7 linked regions of the Homo sapiens genome follow. The protein of the gene in region 1 interacts with the protein of each later gene in a biochemical or structural test. Each region holds a gene or a part of one and is shown in the gene's direction. Other genes may lie near its edges.

Region 1 (4,176 bases):
TCACTTGAGGTGACCAGTCTGGCCAAAATGGTGAAACCCCATCTCTACTGAAAATACAAAAAATTAGCCGAGCTTAGTGGTGTGCGCCTGTAGTCCCAGCTGCCTGGGAAGCTGAGGCAGGAGAATGGCTTGAACCTCGGAGGCGGAGGTTGCAGTAAGCGGAGATCGTGCCACTCACTGCACTCCAGCTTGGGCGACAGAGCGAGACTGTTTCTCAAAACAAACAAACAAAAAAACTATGATTGTTGTTCCACATATTATTGCTATTGTTGTCCCATTGTAGATATTAATTACTGAAGCTTTAATAGCTTTCAGATGGTACTAAAAATGAAATTTTTTATTACTCCTGGTAACATTTTAAAAATCATCTGGAATAATTTGTTTTTCTTTCAGAAACCTGTAATTATTGTTCAGTAAAAGTCCACAATTACATTTGAATGTCTTATACCTCTGTTTGTTTCTTTCCTACATCCTACAGATTCTTGGTAACAGCTGGCCCAGGTTTCTACAGGTACTCAATTTATATCATTACATGAGGAGTGAATTACAAATATTTAAAGACAAATACTTAGCTGAGGCTGGGTGCGCTTGCTCATACCTGTAATCCCAGCACTTTGGGAAGCCGAGGCGGGTAGATCATGAGGTCGGGTTCGAGAGCAGCCAGGCCAACATGGTGAAACCCCGTCTGTACTAAAAAAAAAATACAAAAATTAGCTGGGCATGGTGGTGGCATGCGCCTGTAATCCTGGCTGCTCAAGAGGGTAAGGCAGAATTGCTTGAACCCGGGAGGTGGAGGTTCCACTGAGCTGAGATCTGCACTCCAGCCTGGGTGACAGAGCAAGACTCCATCTTGAAAAAAAACAAAACAACAAAAAAGCCTCCAAATACTTAGCTGAGCTTACATTTTAAAGAGCGGTACTGCATTATTACGTAGATACATTTATTGAATGTCTCATGTTCTAGGCACAGTCACTGGTCTTCAGTGAAGGCACTCTGCCTTCATGGAGCTGACATTCTGTTCTGTGTGTGGGAACATAATAAACAGAATGGTTTCAGGTAGTGGTAAGTGCCATGAGGAAAATAGGACCATGTGATACGGCATGGATGGAAGTGGTTTTACTGTAGATTGAGTGGTTAGGGAGGGCCTTTTTAGAGGTGGTAATTTGACCTGTGACTTCAATGACTAGAAAAAATCAGCCATAGTGACGATTTGGAGGAAGACTGCTACAGATAGCAGGGGCGGCAAATGCATTAGGTGAGGTTTGATTCTAGAGAATCTACAAATGTAAATTAATTATTTGGTTTGTCTGTTAAGCTTTTCATATTTGCTGTCAGATGATGTAGACAGATTAAAATTATTTTATGTGTAGTAACCAAATACAATATGTTGGTGTTGTTTAAACCCTGACTCAAACCAATTGTAGAAAGTCATTTTTGAAACATTGGGGGAAATCTGAATATGGATGGGTATTAGATGATATCAAGGAGTTATTGTAACTTTGTTAGGGATGATAATGGCATTATGTTTATGTAAGAAAATGACCACTTTTTATTAGTGATAGAGACTGAGGAATGAGGGAGAAAACTTGCAAATGTCTGGTATTTTATTTTATTTTATTTTATTTTGAGATGGAGTTTCCCTCGTTGCCCAAGCTGGAGTGCAGTGGTGTGATCTCAGCTCACTGAAGCCTCCACCTCCCGGGTTCAAGCAATTCTTCTGCGTCAGTCTCCTGAGTAGCTGGGATTACAGGAGCGCGCCACCACGCCTGCTAACTTTTTGTATTTTTAGTAGAAACGGTTTTTCACCATGTTAGCCAGGCTGGTCTTGAACTCGTGATCTCAGGTGATTCGCCCGTCTCGGCCTCCCAAAGTGCTGGGATTACAGACGTGGGCCACCGTGCCCAGCAATGTCTGTTATTTTAAACAGATACCAGATAAAAACCAAAAAATGTGGTGGAGGGAGATAAGATAGATGAAGCAGGTCTGGCACAATCTGGATAATTGTTGGGTTGGGGTGATGGGTACATGGGTATTAATAATATTGTTCTCTGCTTTTGTGAGGTTTGAAAATTGTTCATATTTTAAAATATATTTTTTTGGCTGGGCCCAGTGGCTCATGCCTGTAATCATAGCACCTTGGGAGGCTGAGGAAGGTGGATTGCTTGAGCCCAGGAGTTTGAGACTAGGCTGGGCAATGTGACGAAATTCTGGCTGTACCAAAAAAATACAAAAATTAGACAGGCATAATGGCACATGCCTGTAGTCCCAGCTACTCGGGAGGCTGAGGTGAGAGGATGGCTTGAGCCCGGGAGGCAGAGGTTGCAATGAGCCGAGATTGTGCCACTGCATTCCAGCCTCGGTGACAAAGCCAGACCCTATCTCAAAATAAATAAGTAAATGAAATAAAATAAAATAATATATTTTTGAAAACGTTCATTCATGTTTAGGCTGGACATGGTGGTGCACACCTGTAGTAATCCTAGCACTTTGGGAGGCTGAGGCAGGCGGATCACCTGAGGTCAGGAGTTTGAGACCAGCCTGCCCAACGTGGCAAAACCCTGTCTCTACTAAAAAATACAAAAAGTAGCCGGGCATGGTGGCGGGTGCTTGTAATCCCAGCTACTTGGGAGGTTGAGGCAGGAGAATGACTTGAACCCAGGAGGCAGAGGTTGCAGTGAGCCAAGATTGCGCCACTGCCCTTCAGTCTGGGTGACAGAGCAAGATTCCATCTCAAAAAAAAGAAAATGTTCAATTGTAAATAAAAATGTTTTAAAATAATTAGTAAAAGTGGCCAGGTATAGTGGCTCACACCTGTAATCCCAGAACTTTGGGAGGCCAAGGCGAGTGGATCACCTGACATCAGGAGTTCGAGACCAGCCTGGCCAACATGGTGAAACCTTGTCTCTACTAAAAACACAAAAATAAAAAAAATATAACTGTAAATACAAAAATTAGCTGGGCGTGGTGGTGGGTGCCTGTAATCCCAGCTGCTTGGGAGGCTGAGACAGGAGAATTGCTTGAACCCAGGAGGTGGAGGTTGCAGTGAGCTGAGATTGCACCACTGCACTCCAACCTGAGTAACAGAGTGAGACTCCATCTCAAAATTTGTGAAAGTACCATATTTAAGTGTCTGTTCCCTTCCACGCTTCTTTTCATTTTGATAAAAATACAGTATTTCGTTTCTATTTGTAAATGTTCAGTATTTATTCAACAAACAGGAGTGTTGTATTTCAGGCACTGTGCCAGTGCTTGAGTTAAAACAAAGGGCAGGCTCTTAACACCTGCCTGAAGGGGCTTATGGCTTGCTGGTGGAAAGGAGAGTTTGGCAGTGTGGATTGTGTTAACATGGAGAAGATTTTTGTGTTTTCCTGAGGGCATACACGATTAGCATCTTAGTTTAGTTTGTATGTGATTGGATTCTTAAAAAATATTTTTCCTTTTCTACCAAATAGAAAATTTAAGAAATTCTATATATGGCTAGGTGTCAAGTCTGAATCAATGTTGTAGTCATTTCCCTTATTCATATGTACTATAGGGCACTCGAATAAATTACTTATTTTACTATCTTTTGACATCCCAATTTGTTGTTACTTAAATTTTTTTTTTTTTTTTTTTTTTTTAATGGAGTCTCACTCTGTGGCCCAGGCTGGAGTGCAGTGGCCCCATCTTGGCTCATTGTCACCTCCACCTTCCAGCTTCAAGTGATTTTCCTGACTCACCCTCCCAGGTAGCTGGGATTAGAGGTGCACGCTACCACGCTCAGGTTATTTTTTATATTTTTGGTAGAGATGGGGTTTCGCTATGTTGGCCAGGCTGGTCTCGAACTCCTGACCTCAAGTAATCCTCCCGCCTTGGCCTCCCAAAGTGCTGGGATTACAGGCGTGAGCCACCACGCCTGGCTACTTACATTTTTATTTTGACATAATTTCAAACTTACCGAAAGATTTAAAAAATAGTACTGAGAACTCTTGAATACTCATTATTCAGATTCACCAATTTTTAATGTTGTCACTCTTGCTTTCTTATTTTCTCTCTCTTTTTTTTTTTTTTTTTTTTTTGAGGTGGAGTCTCGCTGTGTTGCCCAGGCTGGAGTGCAGCAGTGTGATCTCGGCTCACTGTAACCTCCATCTCCCAGGTTCAAGCGATTCTCCTACCTCAGCCTCCTGAGTAGCTGAG
Region 2 (4,176 bases), on another chromosome or scaffold:
CTGCAACCTCTGCCTCCTGAGTTGAGGCTATTCTTATGCCTCAGCCTCCTGAGTACCTGGGATTTCAGGCGTGCGCCACCACGCCCGGCTAATTTTGTATTTTTAGTAGACCTGACCTCAACTCCTGACCTCAAGTGATCCGCCCACCTTGGCCTCTCAGAGTGCTGGGATTACAAGCATGGGCCACTGTGCCTGGCCCCTTCAGATTGTTCTAAATAGGCTCAAAATAGAATAAGGCTTAAACCTATGTAAGTTGGGAAATTGAGTTTGAGTTTATACTTGAAAGATCAGTGAAGATAAAAACTTCCTTTAGGCCTGATGCAGTGGCTCATATCTGTAATCCCAGCACTTTGGGAGACTGAGGCAGGTGGCAGTTGACATCAGCCTGGCCACCATGGCAAAATCCCATTTCTACTAAAAATCCAAAAAAATTAGCTGGGCGTGGTGTTACACGCGCATAATCCCACCTACTCCGGAGGCTGAGGCTGAGAATCCCTTGAACCTGGGAGGTGGAGGCTGCAGTGAGCCAAGATCACACCACTGCACTCTAGCCTGGGTGACAGAGCGAGAGCATTTCAAAGGAAAAAAAAAAAAAAACTTTAGAATGTTTGAAGTATTTTTATGCCTAGTGTATTTACAATGTAATAAGAAAATACTGTGCTCATAATTGATATGTAAACCTTCTTGTATGTAGTTCCTTATAAAGATACCTTTTTTTTTTTTTTTTTTGAGACAGAGTCTCGCTCTGTTGTCCAGGATGGAGTGCAGTAGTGCAATCTCGACTCACTGCAACTTCTGCCTCCCGAGACCAAGCGATTCTCCTGTCTCAGTCTCCCGAGTAGGTGGGACTACGGGCGCACGCCACCACGCCCAGCTAATTTTTGTATTGTCAGCAAGATGGGGTTTCACCATATTGGTCAGACTGGTCTTGAGCTCCTGACCTCAGGTGATCCACCTGCCTCATCCTCCCAAAGTGCTGGGATTACAGGCGTGAGCCACTGTGCCCAGCAAGATACCATATACTCTTATTTGAAGAATTTTGCTGAAATCACCCTACATGAACTTATGAATTGTGTTAAATAATTTATAAACTGGCATCTTCTATATTTGAACACTAGTGCCCCTTCAGGATACAGGGGAATTTTAAAAGGTAATCCTTTTGGAGAACTTCTTTAGCAAAACTGCATACAAAATAGAAAATCATAGGCTGGGCGTGGTAATCCAGCACTTTGGGAGGCCAAGGCTGGAAGACCAGTCTGGACAACATAGTAAGACCTCATCTGGTTTTTTTGTTTTGTTTTGAGGTGGAGTTTTGCTCTTATTGCCCAGGCTAGAGTGCAGTGGCGCAATCTCGGCTCACTGCATCCTCCGCCTTCCAGTTTTAAGCGATTCTTCTGCCTCAGCCTCCCAAGTCACTGGGATTACAGGACCTCGTGAACCACCCGCCTCAGCCTCCCAAAGTGCTGGGTTTACAGGCATGAGCCACTGCGCCTGGCCCAGACCTCATCTCTTAAAAAAAAATTAGGTGGTTGTGGTGGCACATACCTGTAGTCCAGGCTATTTCAGTGACAGAGGTGGGAGGATTGCTTGAGCTTGGCAGGTCTAGGCTGCAGTGAGCCATGATCTCATCGCTGCACTCCAGTGTGGGTGACAGAATGAGACCCTGTCTCAAAACCACAAACAAACAGAATCATGCTTCAGTTTGGTGGTTTTGAACAGTATTCTTTTCTTTTTTTTTTTTTTTTTTGAGAGTCTCGCACTGTTGCCCAGGCTGGAGTGCAGTGGCACCATCTCGGCTCACTGCAACCTCTGCCTCCTGGGTTCAAGCGATTCTCCTGCCTCAGCCTCCCAAGTAGCTGGGACTACAGGTGCGTGCCACCGTGCCCAGCCAATTTTTGTATTTTTTGTAGAGACGGGGTTTCACAATATTGGCCAGGATGATCTCGATCTCTTGACCTCGTGATCCGCCTGCTTCGGCCTCCCAAAGTGCTGGGATTACAGGTGTGAGCCACTGGTGCCTGGCCTTGAACACTATTCTTATGCATATCTTATTTAACTTTTCTGCAATTGCAAAATTTTGCCTTTTTTTTTTTGAGACAGGCTTTTGCCCTGTTGCCCATGCTGAAGTGCAGTGGGAGGATTATGATCATGGCTCACTGCATCCTCTGCCTCCCAGGCTCAAGCAGTCCTCCCACCTCAGGCTCCCAGGTAGTTGGGACTATAGGCTTGTGCCACTGGGCGATTCTTTTTTTTTTTTTTTTTTTTTTTGAGACGGAGTCTCGCTTTGTCGGTCAGACTGGAGTGTAGTGACATAATCTCGGCTCACTGCAACCTCCACCTCCCGGGTTCAAGCAATTCTCCTGCCTCAGCCTCCTGAGTAGGTGGGATTATAGGCACCTACCACCGTGCTCGGCTAATTTATTTTTCGTAGAAACGGGGTTTTACCACGTTGGCCAGGCTGGTCTTGAACTCCTGAGCTCAGGTGACCCACCCGTCTCGCCACCTCGGCCTCCCAAAGTGCTGGGATTACAGGCATGAAGCACTACGCCTGGCTTTTCTTTTCTTTTTTTTTTTTAAGATGGAGTTTTCCTCTTGTTACTGAGGCTGAATGCAATGGCGCAATCTAGGCTTACTGGAACCTCCGCCTCCCAGGTTCCAGTGATTCTCCTGCCTCAGCCTCACAAGTAGCTGGGATTACAGGCATGCACCACCACGCCTGGCTAATTTTGTATTTTTAGTAGAGACGGGGCTTCACCATGTTGATCAGGTTGGCTGCTCTGAAACTCCTGACCTCAGGTAATCCACCTGCCTTGGCCTTCCAAAATGTTGGGATTATAGGCGTGAGCCACTGCACCTGGCCACCATGCAAATTTTTTAATTTCTTTTTTTTTGAGATGGAGTCTTGCTCTGTTGCCCAGGCTGGAGTGCAGTGGCATGATCTCAGCTCACTGCAACCTCTGCTCCTGGGTTCAAGCAATTCTCCTGCCTCAGCCTCTTGAATAACTGGGATTACAGCGCCTGCCACCTAGCCTGGCTAATTTTTTGTATTTTTATTTATTTAATTAATTAATTTTTTTTTTTTTTTGAGACAAGAGTCTCGCTCTTGCAATGGCACGATCTCGGCTCATTGCAACCTCCACCTCCCGGGTTCATGCAATTTTCCCCCCTCAACCTCCGGCTGGAGTAGCTGGGACTACAGGTGTGTGCCATTGTGCTCAGCCAATTTTTGTGTTTTTAGTAGAGACGGGGTTTCACCATGTTGGACAGGCTGGTCTCGAACTCCTGACCTCAGGTGATCTTCCACCTCAGTCTCCCAAGGTGCTAGGATTACAGGCGTGAGCCACAATACTTGGCCTTTGTTTTTAAGTAGATGATGGTTATATACTGTTTTTCATCCCTTTTATGCCACTGATACTTACTGAGCAGCACCTACTATGTGCAAGGGATAGACTGTGTAACTAAAACAGTCTAGGTTCCTATATCTCCTGAAGTGTGTTTTTTAGTAAGACAGTAAGTAATTACAGATTTGGGTAAGTATTAAAGGAAATTAAAAAGCGGTGCTTTTTTAAAGCTATTCCAGGAAGTTCAAGGGTGTAGGTTGGGGCATTTTAGGTCGGTTTTGTTGTTGTTGTTGTTGTTTTTGATATTGAATCTGGTCTGTCACCCAGGCTGGAGTGCTAGGGCACGATCTTGGCTCACTGCAAACTCCGCCTCCCAGGTTCAAGCGATCCTCCTGCCTCAGCCTCCCGAATAGCTGGGATTACAGGCGGATGCCACCACACTCGGCTAATTTTTGTATTTTCAGTAGAGGCGGGGTTTCACCATATTGGCCAGGCTGATCTTGAACTCCAGACCTCAGATGATCTGCCTTGGTCTCCTAAAGTGTTGGAATTACAGTGTGAGCCCCCGAGCTCAGACTGGAGTCTTTAAATGGGCATTTTTTTCCTTTAAATTTCCTGTTAGTGGCCAGCCAGGCGGATCACGAGGTCAGGAAATTGAGACCATCCTGGCTAACACGGTGAAACCCCATCTCTACTAAAATACAAAAAATTAGCCCAGCATGGTGGCATGAGCCTGTAGTCCCAGCTACTGAGGAGGCTGAGGCAGGAAAGTCACTTGAACTCCGGTGGTGGAGGTTGCGTTGAACTGAGATTGTTCCACTCACTCCAGCCTGGG
Region 3 (4,176 bases), on another chromosome or scaffold:
ATCTAATTAACTGCTTTTCTCCTAGGCGACCACCTTCAGTGACACTTCACTTGGGGGGACAGACTTTTTGTTTTGAGTTGCTATTGGGATAAATAAAAGATGCGATAGTTCATCTTTTATTTTGACAATAGAATGGCAAATGAAGGAATGCATTTACTTAGACTTTTACTTATACTGATAATTTTAACACTCAAGACTGATTAACTTTGTTTTACTCGGTTTCTTTTGTAATGGGTATACAGTAACTTTGAGGATGATTACACTGTTTTAAGAAAACCTGTTAAGAATGCTAAAAAGAATATTGTGGTGGAAAAATACAGGTTACAAGGTTTATGTTTCTATTTGCACTATATGTGTAATTAAATAGTTTGGTTCAAGTAAAGCAAATGATTTATACAAAGAGGGATAATTTTTTTCTTTTTTATCTCCTTAGGATAGCAGTGAGATTCACTTCAAAGTGAAAATGACAACACATCTCAAGAAACTCAAAGAATCATACTGTCAAAGACAGGTTCGTCCATTTTGGTATTAAGTACAATGCTTTGTCGTTAATTTTTTTTTTTTTATAGAAGATTGTCAGAAGAAAAATCCTGTTTTATTATTTTCACCATTAGCAACTCAAGGAAAACACTCTATCATTTCTTGTACCCTGCTTAACTGCTTTTTTTGTCTTGTGGCCCATTTTAAAGTTTGAATTCGTAAGATGGGAACTAGTTTGAAAAGTAACTCAGAATTGTAAAAGCGAGCTCAAATGAATGTTTCTGTCTTGATGGCTTACCAGTATATATAGCAAAAAAGGCAAGTAATTTTTTGGTGATTACTATGGATTGTTTTTGTACTTCTAATCATGAGTGTTTAGCCATATGTTAAATTTAAGTAGTAGTATTATTAGTATATTATCTCTCTTTTTTTTTTTTTTTGAGATGGAGTTTGCTCTTGCTGCCCAGGCTGGAGTGCAGTGGCACGATCTCTGCTCACTGCAACCTCCGCCTCCCAAGTTCAAGTGATTCTCCTGCCTCAGCCTCCCGAGTAGCTGGGATTACAGGCATGCACTACCACGCCCAGCTAATTTTGTATTTTTAGTAGAGATGGGGTTTCTCCATGTTGGTCAGGCTGGTCTCGAACTCCCGACCTCAGGTGATCTGCCCACCTCGGCCTCCCAAAGTGCTGGGATTACAGGCGTGAGCCACCAGGCCTGGCCTTATAAAATAGGTTTTGAAAATAAATGTAATTGGAATTAATATGAGACAACCAAGATATAGTTTAAGTGAAATTATGATTTAATAAGCAAGAAATATATGTTTAATCAGTCTTAAATTAAATTATAGGCTGGGTGCAGTGGCTCATGCCTGTAATCCCAGCACTTTGGGAGGCTGAGGCGGGCGGATCACCTGAGGGCAGGAGTTCAAGACCAGCCTGGCCAACATGGCAAAACCTTGTCTCTACTAAAAGTACAAAAATTAGCCAGGCATGGTGGCGCATGCCTGTAATTCCCAGCTAGTCGGGAGGCTGAGGCAGGAGAATCACTTGAATCTGGGAGGCAGAGGTTGCAGTGAGCTGAGATCATGCCACTGCACTTCAGCCTGGGTGACAGAGCAAGACTCCATCTCAAAAAAAAAAAAGAAAAAAGAAAAAAAAGAAAAAAAATTGAATTATATTACATAATATTAACTCAGGTATTGTAAATTTTATTTTCATTTATTTATTTATTTCTTTGAGATGGAGTCTTCACTCTGTCGCCCAGGCTGGAATGCAGTGGTGTGATCTCAGGTCACTGCAACCTGTGACTCCCTGGTTCAAGCGATTCTCCTGCCTCAGTCTCCCGAGTAGCTGGGATTACAGGCATGCACCACCACGCCCGGCTAATTTTTGTATTTTTAGTAGTGGCGGGGTTTCACTATGTTGGTCAGGCTGGTCTCGAACTCCTGACCTTGTGATCCGCCCGCCTTGGCCTCCCAAAGTGCTGGGATTACAGGCATAAGCCACCGTGCCCGGCCTGTAGATTTCATTTTTAGAAGGTTTGCTTTTAACAGTTTAAATTTGTAACTCACATTAAAAAAAACTTATTATAAGAAAGAGAAACTAGGTGTTAGGATAAGTAAAACAATAAGCATTTTTGTCTCTTCTGTTTTTGTAGATTTTAATTGTTTAACTTAATAAAATCACATTAATTGGGGTTCAACTACTTCACATTTGTAATAACTTTGGGTGTTAAAATTGAGATGAAATTCATCAGGGGAAAGAAACATTTATTGAAATCTCAATTATGTGTACTGTGCCATAGGTATTTAAGATACATTATTGGCCAGGCACAGTGGCTCACGCCTCTAATCCCAGCACTTTGGGAGGCTGAGGCAGGCGGATCATGAGGTCAGGAGTTCGAGACCAGCCTGACCAACATGGTGAAACCCCTGTCTCTACTAAAAATACAAAAATTAGCTAGGCATGGTGGTGCACGCCTGTAATCCCAGCTACTCGGGAGGCAGAGGCAGAAGAATCGTTTGAACCCAGGAGGCGGAGGTTGCAATGAGCCGAGATCACGCCATTGCACTCCAGCCTGGGTGGCAGAGTGGGACACTGTCTCAAAAAAAAAAAAAAAAAAAGATTCATCGTCATTTAATTTTCATAACTCTGAAGAAAATTCATATAGTCTCTACGCCCCCCATCTGTAGGCCAGGGAATTGATTTTTTTTTTTTTTTTTTTTTTGAGACAGAGTCTCACTCTGTCGCCTAGGCTGGAGTGCAGTGGTGCCGTCTTAGCTCACTGCAACCTCCACCTCCTGGACTCAAGTGATTCCCAATGCCTCAGTCTCCCGAGTAGCTGGGATTACAGGCACCTGCCACCAGGCCTGGCTAATTTTTGTATTTTTTTTTGTATTTGTATTTGTATTTTTTTTTTTAGACAGGGTGTTCCTCTGTTGCCCAGGTTGGAGTGCAGTGACACGACCTTGGCTCACTGCAACCTCCACCTCCCGGGTTCAAGTGATTCTCCTGTCTCAGCCTCCCGAGTAGCTGGGATTACAGGCGCGTGCCACCTCGCCAGGCTAATTTTTGTATTTTTGGTAGAGATGGGGTTTCACCATGTTGGCCAGGCTGGTCTTGAACTCCTGACCTCTAGTGACCCACCCGCCTCGGCCTCCCAAAGTGCTGGGGTTACAGGCTGAATCACTGCGCCTGCCCCGTAATTTTTGTATTTTTAGTAGAGATGGAGTTTCATTATGTTGGCCAGGCTGGTCTCAAACTCCTGACCTCAAGTGAGCCGTCTCTCCCCTTTCAGCTGTTTTTGTTGAAGAGTGATTAGAAAAATGTATACTAATATATTTTGTAATATTTATGGTGCTATCTGTGCCATCCAGGTTTATGGTAGATGAGCTAGCTAGCCATTTGCGCTTTACCAGATTTTATGATAATGTTGGCCAGGCTGGTCTCAAACTCCTGACCTCAAGTGAGCCGTCTCCCCTTTCAGCTATTTTTGTTGAAGAGTGATTAGAAAAATGTATACTAATATATTTTGTAATATTGCGCTATCTATGCCATCCAGGTTTATGGTAGATTAGCTAGCTAGCCATTTGTGCTTTACCAAATTTTATGATGTAATCTGTTTAAAACCAATTTCGCCAGTATAGTTGGAAGCTAGTGAGGGTGCACGTCCAGTTTCTGATCTGATCTTTTATTCTAGCTTACAGATTTAGGGCAAAGTGAATCGAGTAGTGGTCAAGAGCATAGGCTTAGAAACAGGTTTGGGCTTAAATTCTTGGCTAGCTCCAAGCCTTAGGTTCCCTAGCTGTAACATGAAGATAAGGTGGTAATACCTACCTTCCAGGGTTGTTGTGTTTAACACTTATGATTATGTATGTAAAGAATTGGTACAGGGAGGGCCTTGCAAATAGTTGCTACTCAGTACAGTATATAGTATTTATGATTGAATTAGCTTGTCTAATTTTATTTTCTATGTAGTGTTCTAAGGCTTTCATGCTTGCTTTTTGTGCATCAAAGTTACCATTATGTTTTCTAATATTTGTGTGTGTATGTATGCATTATTATTATCTTTACCTTTTTAGGGTGTTCCAATGAATTCACTCAGGTTTCTCTTTGAGGGTCAGAGAATTGCTGATAATCATACTCCAAAAGAAGTGAGTATACTTTTCTCCTGAGTCAAGAAAAAATTTAAATTCT
Region 4 (4,176 bases), on another chromosome or scaffold:
AACATTTCATTGCAGTTACTTTACATGTCTATCAGTGTAAGCTCATCAAGATAAAAAAAATTGTTCTTTGGATCCCTTAACACACATACAGTATATAGCAAGGGGTTAGATTAATTGAATTAATGTTTATTTATTTTACAGAAGGGTAGGAATTAGATGAGCTGTGTTAGTGTCAGGCCTGTTTTTTATGTGCCTGACATCCAGAATGGGCATAGTGAAAGGCTCATATATAGCTGTATATACAAAGCCTTTCTAATAGAGGGGAGTCAGTGTTGGTAAAAACCCAGTTCATGTAAGTTGTAAAACATGTCTTCGGATTGGTTCTTTGCATACCCAGAAGCAGTTAGGCATTCCACATTTTAACTTTAAATTCCTGAGTAGGTCAGTATCTTTGATCATTAAGTGGTCTTCAAAAGACTTGTGTTTGAATCTTGGTTCTATCATTTACCATTTGTACACTAGACTAAGTTCTTTAAGCCTCATTTTTCTCATGCATAAAATAGGGGCAATGCATGTATTTTCTGGTATTGATTAAAATGAGAAGCTTAGGCTTTTCTCTGTTCTCCTCTTGAAGGTGGTGTGTGTGTGTTACCTGGAATAGCTAACATTTGGTTTGCCAGTGGGCAGAATGGACTGTTGTGAAGCCATTTGTACACATCTGGCTATTGGAAGAAATAATCTACATGTGTAAAATTTTGTTTACAGATTATTCTGAAACATGATTATGTAGGCTTTATTGCTGTGTTGTACTTTTGAGAATTGAGATCTAGAATACTTGCGTTTCTGGATAACTTTTTAAAAAAACATTTTGGTGACGTGTAAAATGACTAGATAAATTAGGGTTTATTACTGTATAAGTTTTAAGTTTTTTTCTATTACTATAGACTGAATTTTCATGGAATAGATTATTTATTGCAGTGTAAATAGGTGATTTGGGTTCATTATTAGAGAAATGCTTGGAAACAAATGTTACGGAATATTTAGCAATAATATTTTAAATTTGAGTTAAGCATACTTTTCTTTTTACAGAATGACAGCCCATATCAAGGCGGTGTATTCTTTTTGACAATTCATTTTCCTACAGACTACCCCTTCAAACCACCTAAGGCAAGTATTTTCCCTCAAAATCTGTTAGTATAGATTTATGCTTTATTTCAAAGGAATAGAGCATTCTTGGAAGATAGGGTTCTGTGTAGGCTGTATATATATGTTGAATTGCACTCATGTATAGATGCTGACTCTTAACCTTTGGTTTAAAGAGCTAGACCTCAGTTTGAGCTTTGTAAATAGGAATAAGGTTTGCCTTTTCTTTAATGTTGCAAGATTCAGACCATGTGGAAGCTTCCGCCCTCATCTGTATTATTGTTACACAGATTCTGATTTTTGGGCTTTTGTTGTCTTGTAAGCATCAAATGTCCAACTTCAATTTATATTTGCACGTATTGTTACAGCATATGCTTATTATGCTTATAGTTTTGTATACGTAAGTGTAAATTTGTGAAAACTTAGAGTTGCTTAGTGCACTGGTTTATAGGTATTAAAAGCATATTATCCTTCACTTTTCAGTCATTAACATAAATTCAACCTGTATGAATAACTAGAAAAGGTAATATACAAAGGTCATAAACATGTCACTATAACAATCTCTAGTAATGTTATAGGTGCAATGTGATGGTTTCCATTTTTGTGATTCAAGTTTATGTTTTATGTACGGTGGAAATGCAGACTCAGGTGTACCTGTGTAACTTAATGAAACTTTAAATGAGATGGTCTACAAATTTTGGTTACATCCAAAAGTTAGGGCTTTTATAAATGAATGTGTTAAATACCTTTAAATTGCCCTTTGATTCATGATATGGTAGGGCCACAGTAACCTTTAGAACTTTACATCATATGAGTAATGAAATTTTTATCCAAAAGTTTAGGTTTCTGTTGTAAAAAGAGGAGGCAGGGGGTTGTGGTCAGATTGTAAAAATCAGTTTCTATAATATTTAGAACTTCTATGCTAATAGATGACATTTTTAACATTGTGGCTTGATTATTTTAAGTTTTGCTTTAAAAGATGTTTGTTTTTATTTGAATAAAATACTTAAAAGTTTTTGTTTTAGGTTGCATTTACAACAAGAATTTATCATCCAAATATTAACAGTAATGGCAGCATTTGTCTCGATATTCTAAGATCACAGTGGTCGCCTGCTTTAACAATTTCTAAAGGTAAATATTTCTAGTGAAATAAGCTGTTCTCATTGTCTAATAAAGCTTCATTCTTAGATCTACTTATCTGAGTATTTTTATTATGGCAGCTTTTTGGTAAGAGATGGGGAAGCAATAAAGTTACTTTTATAATTTTTGTTCTTTTAGTGGTGTTGATTAAAGATACTTTGTGAGAAGTTGTTAAAATTCAAATTGTGGTGAGTAGGCATTATTTGCCTAATGAGTTACCTTCATCTCATCTTATAATAGCAAAATTTATTTTAATAGACTTCTGTATTTTTCAATCCCAAACCACTTGGACATCTCACACTAACTTGCGGCCTTTTTACCAAGAATGGTATGATATACCTAAACTTAATAGAGCTTTTGAATCCTGAGGTTTCCACTCTAGGAAAATTCTGATTTTGCTTTCCTGGGTTAATTTTTAGACAAATCTTCAGTCATGTTTTATGTAACCATGATAGGTTGTTTCTACCTAATGACAGTCTAAAATTATATAATCTTCGAAAGATCTGTAGATCAATTCTGGTCTCTTAATAGGTATCTGTTACGTTATATGTAACAAGTTTTCCGGTCTCCGCATGAATATCCCAGGTGAAGTTGTAATAATTAACACTATTTCACCATTAATTGTTTTTTGATTTTATGAGTTCAGTAAGTACAAAAAAGCTTTTTCAAAAGGCAAGGCATTGTATAAAAGTTTCATATGTGTATATACTGCACTTGAATCTCATGGAGAGAGACTGTAGCAGTAGCATTTCCCAAACTTTATTGAGTAGAATCACTTAAGGGAGAAAAAGAAACAACTTAGGCAGATGCTGCCATAATTCGAGTGTTTTTAAAATTTTACACCTGTTTTTCACCTTCTTGGATGCTTTCTAATTTCTTTTCAAATCATGCTACATACCTAAATATCAGTTTCCAAGTTTTTCTACTACTGCTGGGAGTGTACAGTAACACTGAAAACTGTTTTTGTAAGGGCAGATTGAATTGGTATTGTTTTGTCGTTAAAGCAACTTACTTTTTTGGCAGCCATACTTTGCTAACTTATTAAACTAGCAGTCACAACTGAAGCTACCTTTTTTCTGTGAGTTATTGTATAGCCAAGTCTCCTATATTAGGTAATTTTATATTCTGCTGTATTTGGGGTTTGAAATTAAATTTGCTGTAGTCAATAAATATGTGACAGTGTTGTCTTTTTTATACTATTGCTTTTTTTAAAAAAAAATCGGTCAGAACCATTTCAAGCATTTATATCTTAACATTTTATAACAGCACCACCATATATGGTGACTGGCACATAGCAGGCACTCAAAGTGAATGCGATCTATGTTCCTTAATGCTTGACATCTTATACATCAGTATGTTGAACTGGTTAAGGTAAAAACTAGAGCTGATGACTCACTTAGTACTAAAGAGATTTTGGCATTGTATTTAACTAGTACTCTTGGGAATATGGTTTCTTGCTTACAAGTTCAAGGAGACATTTAGTGGAGCACTTGAGGGTTTTTCTCAGAAATTGCCAAGACAACGGCTAAGAATGGATTTTTCATCATGCCTAATGGCTATGAATATGGCATGAGTGTTACCTGCATATTCTTGCTAAAGTCCCCCCCCCCCCAGCCACTGAGTACCAAGAAACTCAAGTTCTAATATCATTTATGCCTATTTAAAATATATATATTAATATGGCATCAGTTGCCTATCTTAGAAACTATTTTTATGGCTAGTCTGCAGTGAATTTCATGCCACAAAACCCTGTTTTTAGCACTTCTTACTTACCAGGAGCTTGTCTTCTGTGAAACAAAATCTCTGTAAAACTGTGTCTCATTGAGATAAAGATACAAACTAATAAAAGTCTTTTGAGGATTGAGTTTTGTAATACACGGTTTAGAAAAATTTATTTATCCAAACTCCTGAAACTGGGTAACAGATGTTTTTGTTTTCTTGCAGTTCTTTTAT
Region 5 (4,176 bases), on another chromosome or scaffold:
TCTCTCCACATACGTTTTAATCGTAGTGTTTATAATTAAAAGGTATTTTATATTTATTTTAGTGACCTTAATAGCTTATGCTCTGATTTCACAAAGGTTTTACTTGGAAGCTCAATATTCTTGTAAAAACAAATGCATCATCAAAAATGTGAGTCCTTACTTTTTAGGCAGGAGCAAAAAAAAGAAAAAGAAAAAATAAAAATAAATGTGAGTCTTATCTTTTTTTGGCATTTAGAAATAGAACGGAAAATTGAAAGATTTTAGAAAAGTCTTATTTCTTACTGAATAGAACAGATCTCTCTCTGATTCAGTGAGTATGAAATAATGACTGATGTTTTTTTTTTTTTTGAGACGGAGTCTCGCTCTGTCACCCAGGCTGGAGTGCAGTGGCGTGATGTTGGCTCACTGCAAGCTCTGCCTCCCAGGTTCACACCATTCTCGTGCCTCAGCCTCCCAAGTAGCTGGGACCACAGGCGCCTGCCACCACGCCTGGCTAATTTTTTGTATTTTTAGTAGAGACGGGGTTTCACCGTGTTATCTGGGATGGTCTCGATCTCCTGACCTCGTGATCCGCCTGCCTCGGCCTCCCAAAGTGCTGGGATTACACGTGTGAGCCACCGCGCCTGGCCTAATGACGGATTTTTGATTTTTTTTTTTTTTTTTTAAGAGATGGAGGTCTCCTCTCTTTGTTGCCCAAGCTGTTCTCCAGTTTCTGGGCTCAGCCATCCTCTTGCCTCAGCCCTCCCAGTAACTGGGGCTACAGGTGCACATCACTGTGCCTGGTTCAGTAATGGCTGATTAAAAAAGATTATTAAAAAGACAATATCATAAAAACTTTTTTTTTTTTTTTTGAGACGGACTGGGTCTCACACTGCCACCCAGACTAGAGTGCAGTGGTGTGATCACGGCTCACTGCAGCCTCTAGGGTAACTTTCTTTATTTTTTGTGGAGATGGGGTCTCACTTTGTTGTGCAGGCTGGTCTTGAACTCCTGGGCTCAAGCAATCCACCCACCTTGGCCTCCCAAAGTGCTGGGATTACAGGCGTGGGACACTGCACCTGGCCGAAATAATTTTGATAAAAGGGAAAAGAACTAATTCTCCTTCTCACAACAGCAATATTTATTTTACATATTATCTTCCACTTCTTGTTTATATGCTTATTTTTACATTGTGGATCATAGTATATACAATTTCTGAGATTTCTTTTTCTTTTTTTTTTTTTAAAGACGGTCTTGTTCTGTCACCCAGGCTGGAGTACAGTGGCACAATTATAGCTTGCTGCATCCTTACCGCCTGGGCTCAAGTGATTCTCCTGCCTCAGCCTCCAGAGCAGTTAAGACTACAGGCATGTGCCACCATGCCCAGCTAAAATACACGGTTCTGAAATTTTCACTTAACATTATGCTACAAACCTTTTTTGCATGGTCAGACTGATAAGCAGGTAGCCAAGAGAAGTGATGACCTTTGAAGTAACCACACTGAGAAGCTGTATACAGTATGGTTTACCATTGATGCTTGCTTTTTGTTTGTTTTTGTTTTTGTTTTTGTTTTCGACAGAATTTCACTCCGTCACCCAGGCTGGAGTGCAGTGGCATGATTTCGGCTCACTGCTGTCTCCGCCTCCTGGGTTCAAGCAGTTCTCCTGCTTCAGCCTCCGCAGTAGCTGGGATTACAGGCTCAAGCCACCATGCCCGTCTGATTTTTGTATTTTTAGTAGAGATGGAGTTTCACCATGTTGGGCAAGCTGGTCTCAAACTGACCTCAAGTGATCTGCCCTCCTCAGCCTCCCAAAGTGCTGGTATTATGGGCGTGAGCCACTGCAACCGGCCCCACTGATGCTTTCTGTGTCATTTAAAGCTACATAAGAAAACCAGTCTTGTTACTTTTATAGTCATTCCACATTTTACAATACTACTGTTTGATCTCCTCTGATATTTATCATACATGGCTTTGAATTACTGTTGAAAACTCAGAAGTCATATCAATTCTCAAAACATGAAGGAAAAATATGCAGCTGGATCTATTCTGAAAGAGCAATTTTTAAAAATGTTTTGAAGCCAGGTGCGGTGGCTCACGCCTGTAATCCCAGGCACTTTGGGAGGCCAAGGCGGGTGGATCACCGGAGGTCAGGAGCTTCAGACCAGTCTGGCCAACCTGGTGAAACCCTGTCTCTCCGAAAAATACAAAAATTAGCTGAGCATGGTGGTGCACGCCTGTAGTCCCAGCTACCCAGGAGGCTGAGGCAGGAGAATCTCGTGAACCCAGGAGACGGAGGTTGCAGTGAGCCGAGATCCAGCCACTGCACTCCAGCCTGGGCGACAGAGCGAGACTCTGTCTCCAATTTTAGTATATGTGCTGCTGAAGCGAGCACAGAGCGAGACCCTGTCTCAAAAAAAGAAAAAGTAAATAAAAGTAAAAATGTTTTGAGCCATGGCAGTATTCCATTAGCACCAACTTTGGGCTGACATCCACTACACATATACACTGGTGCACATGTGTAATCAGAATAATTCATGGAGTGAAGGTGAGGGATACATAGACACTATAGAACAGGTGAAAAATAAGCTAGCAGTCTAAGGACAAATGTGAGGGCATAGAAAGTGGAGGCTAAGAAGAGTACAAGAGGTTACTGGTACGGAAATTCATAGAGCTTTGTGCATAGCGGCAATAACATACTTGAGAAAATTATAGAACCTCAGTTGTAGAAGAGACCTTAATCTTTCAGATGGTTGATGAGTGCATATTTATTATAAAAATTAGGGGCTGTCATGTTTGTGGTATTTAACTTTATGGCCAATTTCCATTCATGTTCTTTTTTTTTTTTTTGAGACAGAGTCTCACTCTGTGGCCCAGGCTGGAGTGCAAAGGTACGATCTTGGCTCACTGCAGCCTCCACCTCCCGGGTTCAAGCGATTCTCCTGTCTCAGCCTCCTGAGTAGCTGGGATTACAGGCATGCGCCACCACGCCCGGCTCATTTTGTATTTTTAGTAGAGACGGGGTTTCTCCATTTTGGTCAGGCTGGTCTCGAACTCCCGACCTCAGGTGATCCTCCTGCTTCGACCTCCCAAAGTGCTGGGATTACCGGTGTGAACCACCGCGCCTGGCCTCATTCATATGCTTTTGTACAGAACATTTCCTTTCTCTTGGGTTAATATTAAACTATGATTAAGTTCTCTGTGTCTGGAAAGGTGGTCACAGTATTATAGATGTTAAGAGAAAACTTCAGGAATTTTAAGAATAGTTTCAATAGGGAATACATTTCAGAATTTCTTTTTTTTTTTTTTTTTGAGACGAAGTCTTATCCTGTCACCCAGGCTGGAGTGCAGTGCTGTGATCTTGGCTCATTGCAACCTCCGCCTCCCCGGTTCAAGTGATTCTCCTGCCTCAGCCTCCTGAGCAGCTGGGACCACAGATGCGCGTCACGACACCCAGCTAAATTTTTTGTATTTTTAATGGAGATGGGGTTTCATCTTGTTGGCGAGGCTGGTCTCAAACTCTTGACCTCAGGTGATCCACCCACCTCAGCCTCCCAAAGCGCTGGGATTACAGGCTTGAGCCACCATGCCTGGCTGAAGTTTCAGAAATTTAAGGGAGGTAATTTTGAGTTGCGAATGGAATCTTACTAGTAGATTCATTTATTGGTAGACTGCTACGTGCCAGGCATGGTTCACATCTTAAGGATACAACTGTGAGCAAGGCGTGGTGTCTGTCCTCAGAAAGCTTAAAGGTTAACAGGAATAGAGACACACGAATAGGTATTAGAATACAGTGAGAGAATGGTAAGGAGCTAATACTGGAGCACAAAAGAGGGAGGTCAAGAAAACCTTCCCAGAATAAATACTTTTTTATCTAAAATCTGGAAGATGTTTCTTGCAGGAGAAACATGCAGAGACTTGGAGGGGAATTGGGCAGACATGTATACAGACAGAGATGAGAGAGGGGAGACAATCGGTTTAGGGAATTGATAATTCCAAATGAGTAAAGCACAGCTAGTGCAATAAATGGACCTCAAGAGATAAATGGGAGATTGGGTTGGGCCTTATAAGCCATGTTAAAAAAAATCTTGTCTTTATTCTGAGAATAGTGGGGAGTCAAGGGTTTTAATTAGAGGAGTGAGACTGGGCACTGTGGCTCACACCTATAATTCCCGCACTTTGGGAGGCTGAGGTGGGAG
Region 6 (4,176 bases), on another chromosome or scaffold:
GCTCAGTGTAGAACTTGCTTACAGTTGGACTTGTCCCGTGCTGAAGTTTGTGCTCAGAGATTATATTTCAAAATGTGGAATGCCCCTTTTGATATTTGTGATATCTTGCCCCCAAGCTAATTAGGTGCTGTACTTTTTTTTTTGTAGAGACAAGTCTTGCTCTGTCGCCGAGGCTGGAGTGCAGTGGCACGATCTCGGCTCACTGCAACCTCTGCCTCCTGGGTTCAAGCAATTCTCCTGCCTCAGTCTTCCGAGTAGCTGGGACTTCAGGCGCCCACCGCCATGCCCAGCTAATTTCTTTTGTATTTTAGTAGAGAGGGGGTTTCACCATGTTGCCCAGGCTGGCCTCGAACTCCTGAGCTCAGGCAATGCGCCTGTCTCTGCCTCCCAAAATGCTAGGATTACAGGCGTGAGCCACCATGCCCAGTGGTGGTCTACTCTTACATGTCTGTTGGAGGCCACATTTGCCAGATATTGTTGCTCCCGTCTTTTTTTTTTTTTTTTTTTTTTTTTTTTTGAGACAGAGTTTCGCTCTTATTGCCCAGGCTGGAGTACAATGGCGCGATCTCAGTTCACTGCAATCTCCACCTCCCAGATTCAAGTGATTCTCCTGTCTCAGCCTCCCAAGTAGCCGGGGTTACAGGTGCCCACCACCATGCCTAGCTTGTTTTTTGTATTTTTAGTAGAGATGGGATTTTACAGCCTAGCCGGCTGGTCTTAACTCCTGACCTGAGGTGATCCGACCTCCTCGTCCTCTCAATTGCTGGGATTACAGGCATGAGCCATGGCGCCTGGCCCGCCCCAGTCTAATTATTAGTCTGACATAAGTGTATTTTGGATAAACTACTTTTCCTAATATTCTTGCTCTGTGTTTATGTGAAAAACATCTGAGAACCATGATAAAGGTTTAAAAAAAAAAAGATGATGGATTAATTTACTTAACTGAAACAATGTGCTGAGGTTTGGTTAACACTGAAACCATCCTTCGTCTGGGATGTAATCCCTTTTTGTCCCAGAATTCACTGATTTGAATACATTTTCGATTTTAGGAAGGTGTGAGTTTCTTTCTGATCTTTTTGCTGTGTTATATTTTGCAGTATTTGAATTAGTGTTTGTGGTGTATTTTGATATTGCTTGTAATTTTATGTGAATTTGAGAAATTTAAAGGAATTTAAGAAAATTTCAAACACCCATACTTTAAGAAAGATTCTTTTCTTTGGTTCATATTTAATACGTACTTGAGTGGTTGTTTTATTATGCTTACCACTTCACGTTTTAAAAACGTACTCAGAACATTGTGAAGTACACTTATTTTTTAGGGTCTGTGAGGAAGGTGAATGACAATATTTCCACCTCTTAGATGAGTCACATGCTCCTGGTTGTATAACCAGAATCAGGAGTTGAATACAGGGCTTCTAACTCGAAGTTTAGTAATTTTTCACTATTTGCCCCTGAAGCACATGTTAGTAGCAGAAACTGAATTTTGAGAAACATTAACTTTTCTTATCAATTTACCTTAGTACAGGTTGAGCATCCCAAATCCAAAATCTGAAATGCTCTAAAGGCCAAAACTTTTTGAATGCTGACATGGCACTCACAGGAAATGCTCATTGGAGTATTTCAGATTTTGATTTTTGGATTTGGGATGCTCAACTGCCATATCGTGCACATATTCCAGAATCTGAAAAAATCAGAAATTCAAAATACTTTTGGTCCCAAGCATTTCTGATAAGGGATATTCAGCCTCTATGATGGTTCTCAAACTCTGTTTTAACCTGCATATAAATTTAAATACTAAGGTATTTAACTGAGAATGAGATAGTCCTTGACTGAGGAACAGTTTTTATTTTCTTCTGTGAGTCATTGAGTTGGTTGCCAAACAAGCCAAATTGACCCAGAGGGAGCTCATTTTAAAAAGTCAAACTAGGCTTTTTTTTTTTTTTTTTTTTTGAGATGGAGTTTCGCTCTTGCGCCCAGGCTGGAGTGCAATGGCGCGATCTTGGCTCACTGCAACCTCCGCCTCCTGGATTCAAGCGATTCTCCTGCCTCAGCCTCCCAAGTAGCTGCAATTACAGGCGTCTGCCACCATACCCAGCTAATTTTTTTATTTTTAGTCCAGACGGGGTTTCACCATGCTGGCCAGGCTGATCTTGAACTCCTGACCTCAGATGATCCACCTGCCTCGGCCTCCCAAAGTGCTGGGATTACAGGCATGAGCCATTGCGCCTGGCCTTTTTTTTTTTTTTTTTTAAGACTGTACTAAATATATTAACGTGTTATGTAAAGGACCTGATGTTTGGTGTGAATACTGACATGATTTGACATGCGTATATAGTTTATGTAATCAAAGTATTGCTTTTGGATTAAAAAAAGTCCTGAAACTCAGTAAGTTGTTCGAAATGAAACAACTTAATTATTTTACAATTATAAAATATGTAATATATTAATACATTTTAATGTTAATAAGTTGTAGTATCTTGTAAATTATAAATAATTTGAAATGAGACAACTTAATTAAATATAGCTAATAACTCTTTCTTACTCAAGTCGCCATAAGAAATATACTTGATTTTAGGCCAGGCGCGGTGGCTCATGCCTGTAATCCCAGCACTTTGGGAGGCTGAGTTGGGTGGATCACCTGAGGTCAGGGGTTCGGGACCAGCCTGGCCAATATGGTGAAACGCCATCTCTACTGAAAATACAAAAGTTAGCAGGGGATGGTGACACACGCCTGTAATCCCAGCTACTTGGGAGGCTGAGGCAGGCTTGAACCCAGGAGGTGGAGGTTTCAGTGAGCCGAGTTCACACTGCCCTTCATCCTGGGTGACAGAGTGAAACTCTGTCTCAAAACACACACACACACACACACACAGACACACACACACACACACATACTTGATTTTAGATCTGCCTATGTTGTTCTACAGAATGTTGTCAAGTTACTTACCTGATACGAGCTTTTTGTGTTTTTTATTGGAATAATCATTATTTTACTTTAAACTGTATAAATACATGCAAACATCACATTCCTGATTCTTTTTCACATCTTCAGTGGATATTCAGCAAAATCAGAAGTAGATCAAATATATGTAAACAAAAATAGAAAATTAAAATAAATTTGATCTAATTCTAATTTTGTTGAATATTACGTTTGTATGAAAAAAAGATCAACAGGCAAATTAATCATTTGTAAATAAAATTTGAAGAGTAATGTTTACTTAAGATTATTTTCAAACATATTGGAAGTGGTCATTTGTTGTAGGTGATTCTTCACTTTTTTTGTTTGTTTGTTTGTTTTTTTTGAGACGAGAGTCTCGCTCTGTTGACCAGGCTGGAGTGCAGTGGCGCGATGTCAGCTCACTGCAAACTCCACCTCCCAGGTTCACGCCATTCTCCTGCCTCAGCCCCCTGAGTAGCTGGGACTACAGGTACCCATCACCACGCCTGGCTAATTTTTTCTATTTTTTTAGTAGAGACGGGGTTTCACCGTGTTAGCCAGGATGGTCTCGATCTCCTGACGTCGTCATCCTCCCAAAGTGCTAGGATTACAGGCGTGAGCCACTGCGCCTGGCCGATTCTTCCCTATTGTAGCATGTGGCTGACAGTCTCCACTTTACTAAGTTAAGAACTATATATACCCTTTTTTTTTTTTTTTAAATTGAGATGGAGTTTCGCCCTTGTTGCCCAGGCTGGAGTGCAATGGCGCAATCTTGGCTCACTGCAACTTCCGCCTCCCAGGTTCAAGCAATTCTCCTGCCTCAGTGTCCCTAGTAGCTGGGATTACAGGTGCCTGCCACCACACCCAGCTAATTTTTTGTATTTTTAGTAGAGATGGGGGTTTCACTATGTTGGCCAGGCTGGTCTCGAACTCCTGATCTCAGGCAATCCACCAGCCTCAGTCTCCCAAAGTGCTGGGATTACAGGCGTGAGCCACCGTGCCTGGCTAAAATTTAAACTTTTAACATTTAGACTGGACTACTCTTAGGTAAGTAAAATATTTTAGTTTTTAATCTACTTAGGGGGGAAAAATCTCTATAGATTACTTATGATACAAACAGATGACCTAAAGATAGCAACTTAAAAAATTTTTTTTCCCTGAAAGCGTATTAGCCGTTTGAGAGTTTAATTTTGCATTTTCGTTTCACTTCTTCATTTCTGTAGAGATCATTGGAGTAA
Region 7 (4,176 bases), on another chromosome or scaffold:
GCAAAATCTAAATTTAAGTGGTTTGCTTTTTCGTTTTTCCTTCTTCGTTCTAATTTGTTACAGGCATCATTTTTATCACAAAAGCAACTTGGGATCATATTGATAATACTTTGTAGAATTAATTTTGTAAAATCTCATGGAATTAATTTTGTAAAATCTCAATTTTTAAGTATGCTTATTGCATTTTTTCTCACCATATAGGTGAAATAAATTTGAATGTAGAAAAATAAATTCTTAATCATAAACACTGTCTTACGTACATTCATATTGTACTTTCCCTTTTTTTTTTTTAGCACTTAGACATTAATATTTTAGGTATTGTTATTTTGATTATCTTTTTGTTTTTTGCCTTCCAGACAAATTATGAAAACAGAATATATAGCCTGAAAGTAGAATGTGGACCTAAATACCCAGAAGCTCCTCCGTCAGTTAGATTTGTAACAAAAATTAATATGAACGGAATAAATAATTCCAGTGGGATGGTAAGTTAATATAGTCATTTTGGTTTTATATAACATAATGTATAGAGTTATATATTATACGTACACACACCATAATATATGTAAGATATTAATATGTAGTTAGGAGAAAGTTTTTAAAAGAGGACCTTTGTTAAGCCAAAAGTCTAAAGAAGGTTGCATTATGTTGTTTTTCTTTTATTAATATAAATTAGGCCATCCTTAAAAACCTTAATGTACTTGCCTAGAATAGATGCATGTGGTGGTTAAAACTTTTTTTTTCTTTTCTTTTTTTTTTGAAACAGAGTCTCACTCTGTCACCCAGGCTGGAGTACAATTGTGCGATCTTGGCTCACTGCAACCTCTGCCTCCCGGCTTCAAGTGATTCTCCTGCCTCAACCTCCCGAGTAGCTGGGATTACAGGCACCTGCCATCATGCCCAGTTAATTTTTGTATTTTTGTAGAGACGGGGTTTCACAATGGCCAGGCTGGTCTCGAACTCCTGACCTTAGTTGATCCGCCCGGCTCGGCCTCCCAAAGTGCTGGGATTACAGGTATGAGCCACTGTGCCTGGCCAAAAGTTTTCTTAGGGTTTTAATTGCCTTAATAGTCATATTTCAGTTGATCTTTATTTGGTAAAAAGATGACCATTATTGGGCGGGGCATGGTGGCTCACGCTTGTAGAGATTGTGCCACTGCACTCCAGCCTGGGTGAAAGAGCGAAACTCCGTCTCAAAAAAAAAAAAAAAAAGAGATGATCATTATTTCTCTTTGAATGTTACTTTTCTGAGGGTTAAGGTACATTTGGTGGGATTAAAAGGATGACTGTTCATGAAAAGGATGAATATTCATGAAGGGTTTTTTTCTTTAAAGAGCAAATATGTCTGTGTTGAAACAGTCATGGCTGAGCATCATTGTCTATTTATTTTTGGGTTTCACTCTGTCCCCCAGGCTGTAGTGCAGTGGTACTCCCCCACTTCCTGTGGCCTCAAGTGATTCTCCCACTTCAGCCTCCCAAGTATGTGAGACTACAAGGCACATGCCACCAAGCCCATCTAATTTTTGTATTTTTTGGTAGAGATGGGGTTTCGTCATGTTGGCCAGGCTGGACTCAACTCCTGACCTCAAGTGATCTGCCCACCTTGGCCTCCCAAAGTGCTGGGATTACAGGCGTGAGCCACTGTGTCCAGCCCATTGTCTCTTTAAACAAAATGACATGCCCTGCTTGACCCACACAAGTTAGTTAGTAGAAACAGCTGAATTTCCAGTATGAGTAGATTGTTAAGTTCATGATAAGTCTTTGAAGCCTAGGCTCTCTTGGTGCCATGTTGAGAGCACGCCACATACAAAATACATTTTAGGAAGCAAAATAACATATCATCATCATAAAATGAGTATCATCCATCTTAGGAAATAGGGCCTCAGTATCCTTGATTTCTCATCCCATCCCTGCGTTCCCTCTCTCTACCAGTGTATTTTGTACTACAAATGTATCACATATGTACACAAATTCATCCTCCTTTCTTCTCTCCTTCTCTCTTTCCTTCTCATCTGTTTACCATCTGTTAAAAATCACGAGTTTATACTAACAACTCCCACTAATTTTATTCTAAAACTATAGGGTTTGTTCTATGATTCTTCCTTTCCAGTTGAGAAACCTGGCTCCCATGCTTCCCAGTGCATTTACTTATTTGCTCAATTTCCCCTTCATATAACTGTACTTCTGGCAACAAGTTGAATCTTGGATTCACAGCCAGCTCCCTGCCCCTCAACCCCAACCTAATACGCAGGTCTGAGGCGGGGCCCCAGATTGGCTGGTGCATCCAGCAGGGAGGCACCAGGCCAAATAAAGCATGACCCTGAGAAAGGAAGAAGCTGGGAAAGGTCATTGGAAACCTTAGCCCTGCACCTGCTGGGCCATTAACACCCCCCCACCCCTGTGCCAACTCAGAGCTGGGACCTGAGAGTCTCTCCAGCCCTCACAGTCCTCAGTTGGTCAGTCTTTGTGATTTACTGGGAGCATTTAGTCCATTTACATTTAATATTCTTAATTACTGACATGTTCAGGTTTAAACAGATCATCTTATTTGGTGGTTTCTATTTTTCTACATGTTTCTTGCCTACTTTTGGAATGGTTGTTCTCAACTTCTTTCATTCTGTTTGTGTTCTTTCAGTGATTATTCTAGAAATTATGCACACTTATCTATTTTTAAGAAATTTGATAGGAGCAGGATTATAAAGCATATGAGTACACAGAAAAGATATTATTTAGGGAATGTCCTGTGTGACACACAGCATTGCCTTTATGAAGAAGACCTTTGTTAGATTTTGCTACTAGACATATCTGGTTTTCTCCACTACTGTTTTGTTTTTACATTATAGCTTCTGTAAATTAAGTAACTAATGGTGTGTTCTACATTGTCATGGAAGCTAGGAAATTTAGATTAAATTTCAGACCTACCTCTAATAAGCTTATCTGATCTCTTGGGCTTTTGGTCCAGTAGTTGATATTTTGCCTCCCTCTCTACCTCCCTTCCCCCAACCCATTTATCATTAAGCCTTGTCAGTTTTATGTTCCAAATGTGACTGGATTTAGGTCTTATTTTTCTATTTACATTGCCACCAAGTGAATATTGGCCATCATTTATTTCCTGGACTCTTGCAACAACGTCTCTGATTCTACTTTTTAAAATCCCTTCCAGTCTTTCCAAAGTTAGCAGCCAGAGGGATCCTCCTAAGAGACAAATTGCGTCGTGTCATTTCTGCACTTCAGATTCCTTTAGGGGCATCAGCCTCAGCATGCATGCTTCTTGCCATGGCTCACTGGGAGTGCTCAAGGTGCACACTGGCCTGCATGCCTTTCGTTTGGTCTCAAGACCTTTGCACTTCTGTTCTTCCTCCTTCCTCCCCAGTCTGGCTAACTCCTATGGGTCCTTCATTTCTCACTGTAAATTCCACTTTCTTTTTTATTGAGACAGAGTCTCACTCTGTCACTCAGGCTGGAGTGCAGTGGCATGATCTCGCTCACTGCAACCTCCATCTCCTGGGTTTAAGTGATTCTGCTGCCTTAGCCTCCCAAGTAGCTGGGACTACAAGTGTGTGCCACAACACCTGGCTAATTTAATACAGATGGGGGTTTGCCATGTTGGCCAGGCTGGTCTCAGACTCCTGACCCGCGTTGGCCTCCCAAAGTGCTGGGATTACAGGCATGAGCCACCGCACCCAGCCTAAATTCCACTTTTTAGTATCTTTATTGATGTTCCAACTTGAATTATGTCCCTTCTATTGCTCTGTTAGAGTCACTCTTATTCTTTTGTTGCACTTAACTATAAATTTATTTTTTTGTTTTTAAAAGAAATGTTTCTAACATAATAGAAGTTTTAGAGAATGATAGAACCAGCATCTATGTGTCCTTCACCTAGCTTTGTCAAATGTTAACATTTGTCTTATTTGTAACAGATCTTTTAATTTTTTTTTTTTTTTTTTTGAGATGGAGTCTCACTCTGTCTCCCAGGCTGGAGTGCAGTCACGCGATCTTGGCTCACTGCAACCTCTGTCTCCCAGGTTCAAGCAATTCTCTTGCCTCAGCCTCCCAAGTAGCTGGGACCACAGGCATGTGCCACCACGTCCAGCTAATTTTTTTGTATTTTTAATAGAGACAGGGTTTCACCATGTTGGTTAGGCTGGTCTCAAACTCCTGACCTCAAATGATCCGCCC

What was found.
Region 2: the proteins of RNF111 (region 1) and SUMO2 form a complex in vitro, tested with the Homo sapiens proteins (3 studies listed by BioGRID, with this or other methods).
Region 3: the proteins of RNF111 (region 1) and SUMO1 form a complex in vitro, tested with the Homo sapiens proteins (3 studies listed by BioGRID).
Region 4: the proteins of RNF111 (region 1) and UBE2D3 form a complex in vitro, tested with the Homo sapiens proteins (3 studies listed by BioGRID).
Region 5: the proteins of RNF111 (region 1) and UBXN7 form a complex in vitro, tested with the Homo sapiens proteins (one study listed by BioGRID).
Region 6: of the proteins of RNF111 (region 1) and SKIL, one has a biochemical effect on the other in vitro, tested with the Homo sapiens proteins (one study listed by BioGRID).
Region 7: the proteins of RNF111 (region 1) and UBE2V2 form a complex in vitro, tested with the Homo sapiens proteins (one study listed by BioGRID).

Annotation. Positions count from the first base shown.
Region 1 is NC_000015.10:58,990,438-58,994,613, forward strand, and holds part of RNF111 (E3 ubiquitin-protein ligase Arkadia), read left to right. Parts: intron 1-478; exon of another isoform or gene 479-511; intron 512-4,176. UniProt on the Homo sapiens protein: E3 ubiquitin-protein ligase. Required for mesoderm patterning during embryonic development. Acts as an enhancer of the transcriptional responses of the SMAD2/SMAD3 effectors, which are activated downstream of BMP.
Region 2 is NC_000017.11:75,176,081-75,180,256, reverse strand, and holds part of SUMO2 (small ubiquitin-related modifier 2 isoform a precursor), read left to right. Parts: intron 1-4,176. UniProt on the Homo sapiens protein: Ubiquitin-like protein that can be covalently attached to proteins as a monomer or as a lysine-linked polymer.
Region 3 is NC_000002.12:202,210,692-202,214,867, reverse strand, and holds part of SUMO1 (small ubiquitin-related modifier 1 isoform a precursor), read left to right. Parts: intron 1-433; coding exon 434-511; intron 512-4,061; coding exon 4,062-4,133; intron 4,134-4,176. UniProt on the Homo sapiens protein: Ubiquitin-like protein that can be covalently attached to proteins as a monomer or a lysine-linked polymer.
Region 4 is NC_000004.12:102,799,492-102,803,667, reverse strand, and holds part of UBE2D3 (ubiquitin-conjugating enzyme E2 D3), read left to right. Parts: intron 1-1,029; coding exon 1,030-1,107; intron 1,108-2,108; coding exon 2,109-2,214; intron 2,215-4,092; exon of another isoform or gene 4,093-4,167; coding exon 4,168-4,176. UniProt on the Homo sapiens protein: Accepts ubiquitin from the E1 complex and catalyzes its covalent attachment to other proteins. In vitro catalyzes 'Lys-11'-, as well as 'Lys-48'-linked polyubiquitination.
Region 5 is NC_000003.12:196,425,499-196,429,674, reverse strand, and holds part of UBXN7 (UBX domain-containing protein 7), read left to right. Parts: intron 1-4,176. UniProt on the Homo sapiens protein: Ubiquitin-binding adapter that links a subset of NEDD8-associated cullin ring ligases (CRLs) to the segregase VCP/p97, to regulate turnover of their ubiquitination substrates.
Region 6 is NC_000003.12:170,363,824-170,367,999, forward strand, and holds part of SKIL (ski-like protein), read left to right. Parts: intron 1-4,176. UniProt on the Homo sapiens protein: May have regulatory role in cell division or differentiation in response to extracellular signals.
Region 7 is NC_000008.11:48,049,497-48,053,672, forward strand, and holds part of UBE2V2 (ubiquitin-conjugating enzyme E2 variant 2), read left to right. Parts: intron 1-356; coding exon 357-482; intron 483-4,176. UniProt on the Homo sapiens protein: Has no ubiquitin ligase activity on its own. The UBE2V2/UBE2N heterodimer catalyzes the synthesis of non-canonical poly-ubiquitin chains that are linked through 'Lys-63'. This type of poly-ubiquitination does not lead to protein degradation by the proteasome.